3 linked regions of the Homo sapiens genome follow. The protein of the gene in region 3 interacts with the protein of the main gene of each other region in a pairwise test. Each region holds a gene or a part of one and is shown on either strand. Other genes may lie near its edges.

Evidence for each region.
Region 1: the proteins of SHC3 (region 3) and SH3GL3 interact in a two-hybrid assay, tested with the Homo sapiens proteins (one large-scale study listed by BioGRID and IntAct).
Region 2: the proteins of SHC3 (region 3) and NTRK2 interact in a two-hybrid assay, tested with the Homo sapiens proteins (one study listed by BioGRID).

The regions. Positions count from the first base shown.
Region 1 is NC_000015.10:83,614,735-83,618,388, forward strand, and holds part of SH3GL3 (endophilin-A3), read left to right. Parts: intron 1-3,347; coding exon 3,348-3,553; 3' UTR 3,554-3,654. UniProt on the Homo sapiens protein: Implicated in endocytosis. May recruit other proteins to membranes with high curvature.
Region 2 is NC_000009.12:85,015,580-85,019,233, reverse strand, and holds part of NTRK2 (BDNF/NT-3 growth factors receptor isoform a precursor), read right to left. Parts: intron 1-3,654. UniProt on the Homo sapiens protein: Receptor tyrosine kinase involved in the development and the maturation of the central and the peripheral nervous systems through regulation of neuron survival, proliferation, migration, differentiation, and synapse formation and plasticity.
Region 3 is NC_000009.12:89,168,669-89,172,322, forward strand, and holds part of SHC3 (SHC-transforming protein 3), read right to left. Parts: intron 1-3,654. UniProt on the Homo sapiens protein: Signaling adapter that couples activated growth factor receptors to signaling pathway in neurons. Involved in the signal transduction pathways of neurotrophin-activated Trk receptors in cortical neurons.

The sequences.
Region 1 (3,654 bases), on a different chromosome or scaffold from region 3:
CTTAGAGTGCCCTGTTCCTTAGAGATATAGGCGCTACTCCATGAATTTCAAGCTGTCTAAACAACTATAATATAATCCTTCTCACAACAGGAATCTCCATTGCCCCAACTCTTGTCTTCCTCCTCCCATAATGCTGTCACCTCTCTACCCCTCCCCAGGACAAAGGGGCATCTCATTTGGCCAGCCACAGAAATACCCCAACGTACCTATTCTCTTTACTTGGACCTAGAAGACTTAGTGGAGAAAGAACATAATCTCTAGCAGAACTTGTTCAATTCTCACTTGAAGTCTAGAGGGAGGAAAAAGTCTTATAACAGAAAAAGGAAATAAAAATGGAAATCATCAAATAGGATGGCAAAAGTCACTTATTAAGAAAAAAAAAAACTCCTAAGATTAATCTTATTAATACTCAAAGAAAAAAAGTATGAACTAGTCAAAATTGAAGTGAGATTTTTGTGAGAGAAATGTGTCATATTAATACTGAAATATACCTAGTTAAATGAATTCATGAGAATAGCAAGGAAATATTGAAATAGAAGGGTAATGACTATGAACTAGTTTTACTAGTTATTAACATTTTATTTATTTATTTATTTTTGAGATGGAGTCTCACTCTGTCACCCAGGCTGGAGTGTAGTGGTGTGATCTCAGCTCACTGCAACCTCCGCCTCCCAGGTTCAAGTGATCCTCCTGCCTCAGCCTCTTGAGTAGCTGGGATTACAGACATGCGCTACCATGCCTGGCTAACTTTTGTATTTTTAGAGATGGGGTTTCACCATGTTGGCCAGGGTGGTCTCAAACTCCTGGCCTCAAGTGAACTGCCCGCCTTGGCCTCCCAGAGTGCTGGGATTACAGGTGTGAGCCACCACACCCGGCCTGTTAACATTTATTATAAAGCCACAGTATTTAAAATGATATGGTACTGTTACCAAAATGAGTCAGTGGGACAAAATAGAAAAAATCCAAAAATAGATCTAAGTCCCATGATGATTAAATATATGATAAAGATAAAGGCAATACTTGAAATCACTGGAGAAAATATGGATTATTTAAGTATGTTGTTATGACTGCATAAGCATTATTAAATATAATAGATATTTACCTCATTTTGCCAAAATCCAAATAGATTATAAAAGTTCTGATGTGAAAAAAATTAAATAAAAATACTAGAATAAAATTTAGTTGAGTCTTTATATAGGACTGTGGAGAATAAACCATGAATAGAAAGTTTGATTAGTTTGACTGCTTATACTCTTCAATTTGTGCATTCATGCCAAAACAAAATAGAAACCCCTTTCCCTGCCCCACTGCCAGCACAAACTTCAAAAACAAAATGAGAAAAAAAAAGAACAGATGATAAGTTGGGAATAATGTTTGTACCAGAAATGACAGATAAAGGGTAAATATGTGTAGTATAAAGGGACTTCTAAACATCTTAAGAAAAATAGTGATATTAGGTTGGTGCAAAAGTAATTGCAGGTTTTGCCACTAAAAGTAATGGTAAAAATTGTGATTGCTTTTTTTTTTTTTTTTTTTGAGATGGAGTCTTGCTCTGTCCCCCAGGCTGGAGTGCGGTGGCGCGATCTTGGCTCACTGCAACCTCCGCCTTCCGGGTTCACGCCATTCTCCTGCCTCAGCCTCTCCAAGTAGCTGGGACTACAGGTGCCCGCCACCACGCCCGGCTAATTTTTTTGTATTTTTAGTAGAGACAGGGTTTCACTGTGTTCTCGATCTCCTGAACTCGTGATCCGCCCGCCTCAGCCTCCCAAAGTGCTGGGATTACAAGCGTGAGCCACTGCGCCTGGCCACTGTGATTGCTTTTGCACCAACCTAATAGAAAAATAAATTGACACTAAATGTCAGATATTTTAGAAAGAATTCATGTTCTATGACCATGAAATCCTTTTCTTGGAATTTATCCTCAGAAATTAATAGTGCACATTTGTAGATATTTATGTATAAGCTCTTTTTCCCAAAGAATTGTCTATAAAAGCCAAGGGGGAATAAAAGAGACAACAGAAAGAAATGAAGAAAAAGGAAGAGAAATCGAGAAAAACAGGGAGGGAGAAGGAAGAAAAGAATGAAGGAAGGAAGGAAAAGAAGAGATGAAAAGAAGAGAAGGAAGGAAAAGAAAGAAGAACCGTAAATGTCCAACAATAGGAGATTAGTTGAAGAAATGTTACATTGTGAGAGCTGACAGCTAGTCAGTAACTAAAATTGAAAGATATTCACCCTAGCTTGTACAAGAAGAATCTTTTATGAAAACAACTATATGTAAATATATGCACAAATATAATCATGAAGACATCTGGAATCTGAAAGCTAGCCCAGTTATCTCTGGGGTAATGGTTTACAGCTCTGACTTTTCTTTCTCCACTTTGCATACATGTATTTTTTGTTTACAATTAGCATGATTTTGTTTTGAAAAAAATGTTTTTGATGTTATTCTGGGACTAGATGTCAGTAAATATTCTTGTCTGTAAATTCTGGTCTGTAAATATTCTTGCCTTTCTTGTCCTGGTTTCTCTCCTCCCGGCCCTTGTCCTGCCCATTAACTAGGAAGATCTTGCTGACCACCAAGGTCCTCCCTACTACCCTCTCCCCAGAGCTCCTGAACCATGAGTGATACACACTTCATATTTGTTCTTTAAAAGATTTTTGGCCATGCACAGTGGATCACGCCTGTAATCCCCACACTTTGGGAGGTTGAGGTGAGCAGATCACTTAAGGCCAGGAGTTCGAGACCAGACTGGCCAATATGGTGAAACCCCACCTGTACTAAAAATACAAAATTAGCTGGGCGTGGTGGCGCATGCCTGTAGTCCCAGCTGCTTGGGAGGCTGAGGCACGAAAATTTCTTGAACCTGGGAGGCAGAGGTTACAGTAAGCCAGGATCGCACCATTGCACTCCAGCCTGGGCAACAGAGCAAGACTCTGTCTCAAAAATAGATAAATAAATAAATAAAAGTTTCTCGTGTATTTTCTAATCCCCACAAAGAAACTGTAAGCTCCCAGAGAGAAGGAGGTGGGCCTGTGATTCCTCTGTCGCTCCCTTAGGGCTCCAGGTGGAGCTGACTGGCTGCTTTTGGGAGATGGGCTGGGCACGACTTCTCTGCCTGGGAGTATTGAAAAGATAGACTCTGGGCTCATGGGGTTGGCGCAGGCAGCTGGGAGAGCTGAGGCAGCCAGAGACCACAAACGGCACCGTGAGCTGGGTGGAGCTGGCCTTGTGGGAAGGAAGCAAGGCCTGCTGTTAAGGGTCTCTCTGAGCTTTTCCACATTTCCAATTTCCCATGGATAATCCATCATGTTCATCTGTACTTTTTGTCTCCATATCATGTGGACAGGTTCTAACATTCCCATGGACCAGCCCTGCTGTCGTGGTCTCTATGACTTTGAGCCAGAAAACCAAGGAGAATTAGGATTTAAAGAAGGGGACATCATTACATTAACCAATCAAATAGATGAAAACTGGTATGAAGGAATGATACACGGAGAATCGGGATTCTTCCCCATTAATTACGTGGAAGTGATCGTGCCTTTACCTCAGTAAATGTGTAACACAAACTCTGGACATACTTTCGTAACTGAAATGAATTCACACCAGTGTGCTCTCAGTGCGGTGTTCTGTGACATCCTTTGCTCTCTGACCAA
Region 2 (3,654 bases), 4.2 Mb from region 3:
ACAACTCTGGGTCCTGAGTTTATAGAGTAATGGTGCATAGAGTTTCTGCCCAATTCTAATCTCAATATCCAGTTAGTATTTATTAAAGGAAGAAAATAAACTAATAGTGTCTGGAAAATGTTCCCCTACCCCAGAACCCAAGAGGCTGAAATGTCAGAGATGTCTAACATGCTTGGTGATTCCCAGTGATGTTCTTAGCACCAAAGAAAGCACAAGAGTACAAAAGGGGGAGGATATTTTATTTCATTCTTCTCTGTATGATGCATCCAAATTTGACAAATAGGGACAAAAACTTCTGGCTCAGGTGACCCATCTCTACTATTCAGTTTTTAATAAACAAAAAGCTCATAAAGGCTAAGTTGGCTTCCATTGGCCTTAGATTTCCTCACTCTTCCTTCAGCAGTGACAGGTCATCAGTGTTCAATGGACAGAGACTTCTCTTATGGTCTTACTTGATGTCTGAAGGTGGTGGCAACAGTCACCCTCAGGGTCGATACTCAAACTGCAATCAGTGTGGCACAGACACTGACCAACCAGAAAGGATGTGGGTAGTAAATATGGGTGCAGCTATTTCAGCACATTTCTGGTTTGGCAAATATCTGCCCTGTTTATAACTCTGTGACCCCCAGGTGCCCAGGACTTTGGGAGAGGGAATCTGCTGACATACACAGAGGACCTGTTGTTTCCAGATGCTTTGGAGGACTTGCGGTATGAGGGTAGAATGATCTCACCAGGTCTGGGCAGCCCACATGGCAATGCCAAGGAGAGGACTGCTTTGGGCCATGCAGGGATGCTGCTGCCACCTTGCAGAGGTGGGCAAATGACCCTTCTGTTTATGTGCCAGAAAAGGCTGGGCACTTTGGCACACACATTTTCAAAGATTGTTAACCCCTAGAATAAAGCATCTCTAGTCTCCTTGCCATTCTCTGAAGCCATAATTGGAATGTACCATATGGTTTAGAAAACATCTATACACGTCTGGTGTCATTTAATTGTGTGAGCAAACCATAAAGAACTCAGGACTCTTGGTGGCACCTCTAGCCTACAGATGATGAAATTGCTCCTGGCAATTATGTGACCTTGCCTGGGTGGTGCAGATAGGACAGAGGTCTACACATTTTAACAGACCATTTTCATCCACACAGCAAGCATTTTATGGGAACCTCTTAAGATACAAACATGGCATTGTTTTGCTTACCTAACATGCAAAAAAAAATGGGTAAGATGAAATCAAAGGGAAAAATAATCCCTTCTGCTATACATCTTATTTTTAACCTTACCTCTCTCATTTTAACCTTCTTCCTACCCTATAAAGAAGAGCTCATTTCATCATTGTTCATGTCAGCATAGTGCTATGGTGCAACCAGCTCCACTGTGCATTTTGGTGTTGCTGTTCTTTCTCGTTAGATAAAATAGAACCCCAGTGGTCAAAGTGGGCTTAGAGAAGTAGGAATCTTAAAATAAAGACTGGGACCTGGTCTTCTTGTTATGCTGTCTGAGTTGTGTTATTTTAACAACCCCAGAAGTTCCTAGATCAAATATGTCAAATGTACTGTAAATTGCAACCCTCTTCAATTCAAGGAGATCCATCAGGGACTGAGGCTTATTAAAGTATGTGAGGAGTTTGGCAGGAAAGAACAAACTTAACTTTGGTAAATTAAACTATTTGAATGTATGTTTGTGGGAGAGATAACCATTTATATATGTCTCAGGTAAGACAGCTAAAAATACACTTTGAGGTGTGTTAATCTAGCAAGATCTCAGGATTTCCATATCTACCTGGATATTCACAGCTGCAATGCAGTGGATGACAATAGCTGGTTTCCAATCGCTCACTTACCTGTTTCCTACTGGGGTAACCTGGACTAGTTGCCAAATCTCTCTGTGGCCAAGGTTTAATAATTATATGTAAGTAATAATGTATACCTCCTAATGTTGTTGGGAGGTATTTACTCAAGCAGGCATTTGTGAAAGTGTTTTCTAAGTCTTAAAGTATTAATGCTTTTGAGGTGTGGCTTTCTTCTCTGGAACCTTCACTCTCTTACTTACTCCAGAAGCAGCCATTCTGGAGACATTAAGAAGAATCATCATATGTCACTCTCCTGAACTCTTCATTTGGCCTTAACCAAGTGGCTCCTTTGATAGCAGCACCCACTTTTTTTGGTCATTAGCAATGCAAGATAGAAAACCTGATACTGGTTCTCTATCCTGAATTGCTAATAGCCAAGAAAAAGCTTCTGTTTCCTTTAAAGAAGAGAGAGAGAACAAAAGATTCACGTTTTGATTTACATGTTTTCTCATCTGATCATTTATTTTCTGCTTGCTGTCTCTTTGGGGCAGATTTTTCACTCTAATTCTTTCAAGAATCCCTTCTGGGATTTCACGCATGCTGTTATAAATAATGCTTTCCTTGTTCAGATGTCAAATGGGTGAGTGGTGGGACAATCTAATAAAAGTTCAGACAGGGTTCACAAGTTTTCTAAGCCCATTTAGTACATTTCTGAACATTTCTTTTGCAACCCTTTCTCAGAATTTTGAAGCATGTCACAAAAGTAGACCCTCCCCCCAAAAAAGTCACTGTTGTTACAAATTACTGTCACATTCTAGTTATAGTCACTTGATGGTTTTTGGACCACACAAACAACACACTGTGCAGCAACAAACACAATGAGACATTTGTTTTGTATCGTACTACTTGGCAACTTGCCCTCATGCCCTTGCTTAAATATTTGTGAGATGGAATGTGATCCCAGGAATGACACTGAGAGTCAGAATTCCTGCTCTCAGCCTGATATGCTGTGGGGCCTCAGGGGCTCTCCAGTAATTAAGTTGAATGGGGTCTCATGGTCTTCACTAAACTCACCAGGTTGACCTGGTGCAAGATGAGAAACCCAGTTATCTGGAGAGTTGACTTGGACTTGCAATTTTTATTTTCCTCAACCCAAGAGACTGGAGTTCTAGTTCTTGTGCTGCTGCTATTAACCAGCTTGAGCAGGTACCCTCAGGTCTGGCTTCTGTCTTTATTGGTAAAATGTGAAGAGTTAGGGCAGCCCTTGGTTACTTCCAGCACAAAAACGCCGTGGTTCCGGAATCACCCACCACCTCAGTGCCACCGTAATCATCCATCAACACTCAGTCTTCAACATTTACGAAGAATTTCTATTCAATTATCTCACTTGAACCCAACAGTTATGCTCTACAGCAGACATGGACTTGCCTGGATAGTGCAAGTAATGCCCCTAAAAGTCAGTCAGTTTAAGTAGTTTACCTAAAGCCACATACCAAACCTTTCCCCATTGGACATCCTGTATTCATTAGGATGGACCACTCTGCTTTTCTGCTTTCTCCAGTCTCCACACACACTCTGTGTTCAGCCAGCAAGCTTAGGTGGCTTCCTACCCAGGGCCAAGTTACTCATGCCTCTTAGAAAGTTTGATCTTCTTCCCTTTCTCCCTACTTCCCAAAGGTCTCCTTTATGAAGGCAAGCTCAAGTCCCACCACTTCAAGAAAAAACTCTCCCTTCCTGCTGCAGCTCAGGGATGGTTCTAGTGCTCTTCGTGTAGCTCTGGGAACACAGAAGGAACTCCTTTCTTTGCCTAACGTATCACATGCCTCAAGAGGGATGGACACGGAATCAGTTCTTTCTGGTGGGGG
Region 3 (3,654 bases):
TGTCCACTTGACTGAGCCATGAGATGCCCAGATATTTGGTTAAACATTATTCTGGTGTGTCTGTGAGAGTTTTTTCCTTTTTGATAAAATTAACATTTGAATCAGTAATAAACTGAATAAACAGATGGCCTTCCCCAATTTGTGTGGCCCTTGTCCAATCAGTTGAGGGCCTGAATAAAACAAAAAGCCTGACCCCTCCCCTGGATAGGAGAGAATTCCTCTTGTTGGGCTGTCTTCAAGCTGGGACACTATTTTTTCCCACCTTCAGATCAGACTGAAACATTGGCTTTTCCTGGGTCTCAAGCAGGACAGCATCAGAACTGGAACTGACACCATAAGCTTTCCTGGGTCTGGCCCACCCTGCAGATCTTGGGACTTGCCTGCCTCCAAAATTATGCAAGCCAATTCCTTATAATAAATCTCTTTTTTAATAAGCAACTCTTGGTTCTGTTTCTCTGAAGAACCCTGACTAATACTATTAAAAACAACTTGGGAGAACACCCATTTCCAGAAGGCTCCTCTGATGCTGGAAGAGGCCCTGCCGGACACTGAGCAGAGGAGGTTGAGAGGTGTGACTCCCACCTCCCCACCTGAGGACTAGGAGGCCTGCCCCTCCTCACAGCTCTCAGTGCTTCTCAGGGACCACAGAGTCAAATCCAGGACGTCTGAGCACATAACGGGACCCTGAACCACTTGGCCATATTTGGTATCACTGTTAAGCCCAAGGCTGCAACTTATTAGTCAAGAACATGGTGTGCTCTCCAAGCACTGAGGCGGAGGCACCACCCAGACCTGCACAATTCTAGAGCTCCACTAACACATTTGTAAGTTCATTCCTGAAGGACAGTCACCACGTGCCAACTTGAGGCCCTCATTCCCACTGCGTGAGGAGGGCCTTCATGTCTAGAAGGAATTTGGACATCCAGGCCACTGCTTGACCCACACCAGGGCAAAGGCAGGCCCACACAAGTCCACAGAAGAGCAACAGGCAAAACCCGAAAGTCTGGAAACCACTCCTAAATAGTGCAAGGCGGGGGTGGGGTGCAGATGGCACTGAGCTGATGGCTGTTGAAGTTGGGTGGCGGGCCATTTGTCCCTGGGGCCTCATTTTACCATTCTCTCTATTTTGTTGTGTTTATATGTTTCCTATGATGATGTATGTTTTAAAATCCTCATAATAAATGTTTAAATTTCATAAAAGGGTGGTTTACAAGGCATGTTACAAGGTTGGCAGGTGACCTTGCAAGACAGGCAGGGCTGCAAGCGGAGGAGGTGGAGATCAGTGTGAGGCGGGTTAGGCTCCCTCACCCCTCCTGCCAGGTCAGGGATGGGCAGGACAAATGGGCTCAAGGCTCTCTTTCTCCTGCTGCCAGTTTTTAGGGGCCTTTCCTGCTGAGTGGGTTGTGGAGGCCTTTTCCTTGGGAAGATCCGAGGCGTCCAAACCAAGACTCAAGAGGGAGAGGCAGCAAGGAGGGATGCGCTAAATCCTGGGTGGTGAGGGGCTCCTGTTTGGGATTCGACATGGTACAGCACAGGGGCACATCCAGGAACTAAACAATGTGCCTGGCATGGGCCAACCTGTATTTTTGCCAGCCTGAAGCATAGCTCATGCAGTCAAAATCAGCAGGGAGGGCCCACCATGGCCAGAAGAGACACCTGCACTACTCACTTTAATCCTAGAAAGATGCATATGTCGGCCTGGCACAGTGGCTCATGCCTGTAATCCCAACACTTTGGGAGGCTGAGGCAGACAGATCACTTGAGGCCAGGAGTTCAGGACCAGTCTGGGCAGCATAGGGAAGCCCCATCTCTACAAAAAGTAAAACAATTAGCCAAGCATGGTGGTGTGTGCCTGTGTCCCAGCTATTCGGGAGGCTGAGGAGGGAGGATCGCTTGAGCCTGGGAGGTCAAGGCTACAGTGAGCCATGATCAGGCCACTGGATTCCAGTCTGGGCGACAGAGCAAGACTCCATCTCAGAAATAAACAAGTGCATATGCTAGGGAATAATGGAATACAGTTGGCCCTCCAAATTCATGACAATATTTTTTTAAATACATGATAAAAATAAGAATACAAAAATTAAAAATAACACAAATCGAACAATGCAGTATAACAAATATTTGTGTAGCATTTACATTATAATAGATATTCGTAATCTAGAGATATTACATTTATAGTATACGGTGTATGGAAGATGTGCATAAGTTATTTGCAAATACTGCACCAGTTTATATCAGGGACTTGAACATGCTCGAATTTTGGTATCCATGGGGTTCCTGGAACCAATCCCCCTCAGATCTCAAGGGATGATTGTACACAAACCCCTCATAATTCACTTACATTTTGTCCATCTTCCGGAGGGACAATAAGTCATTGTGAAGGGCTGTGTCTTCCAGGCAAAGAACACTCAAAACAACTAGGTTTTCATCATTTTATCTTAAGAAATAAAAGCCATCTGTGACTCCTGCTTTGGTAAACTGTAAGAGGCCCAGAGTATACAGTACCTCTGCTAAATACCACCTTAGGGGTAAATTCCTTGTCAACAGAGCTAGAACCATATTTTGATTTTTTTTTTTTGAAAAAAACAGAAAGTTTCTATTTGGGCAGGTGGCAGTGGAAATTTTTAATGTTTGCAAAGCAAAAAGCACTATTGTCAGTAGATTGCCAAACAATTATATTTAATGGAATTTGATAAAATGAAGTTTGTCAGAATGACCTCAGAGTAGAGAGCACTTCTGATGTGAGGCTGGGTGAAGGCCAAGTTCCAGAGTTTGAAGGGTTCATACGAGTTTAAATTCTTGAAATTTGGAATGGACTGTTTGCTTCTTTTTCTGCCTATTCAATAGACGAAAGTGAGCAAAGCCTCTTTTGAGGGGTTCTCCACTTCGGGGAAACCATGCATTTCAGATGATATCCAAGGATGGCTTCAAGTCTGAAGTAAGCAGCATTATAACAATGAGCTCTTTGAACATTTTTCTTCTTGGTTTTGAGGAGCTTCAGATATCCAGACAGCTGCTGAGGCATCAGGCACCTGGAAGCTCCAATGGACAGGGTAAGGCACCTGCTCAAGCTGTCTCCTCGATTTCCCTTTTCTGCAGCTTCTTCCAGCATCTAGGCTTCACTGCAGATCCTCACAGGCACCTGGGCTCATGGCTAGAAACCCAAATCTTCACTAGATGGCAGTGGTATCTGCCAGACCAGCTGAGGTGCAGAGCAAGGCATGTCTGAGCCCAGAATCCATAGATCATAGAATCCATGGATCTAACTAAACTGCTGCCACCTGCCTCAAAAAGAAACCCGCCAGAGGTGCCATCCAGAGCTGAGAAGATGCTCGCCAGCCAAGAAGAGCAGTGCCTCTTCCAGTCATGTCAGGTGGTACAGGAGGGCTGAGGTATATCCGGCACCTTCTCACCAACTCTCCTCACAAAGACAAAGAAGATCAGCATGGCCTGTAACCATGGAAACATGGCCTTTGGCCCCTGGTATCTCACTGGGGTTCAAATGGTCCAAATAGGGATGCCTAATCCCTCTGACCCCAGTGTAACTGGTGCCACTCTGCTTATTTATAACCGTGACTGCTCTGCAACTCTGACGTGGCCACTCAGGGAAAATTCACCAATTCTAGCACTGGGAGACATGGATTAATTACTCCC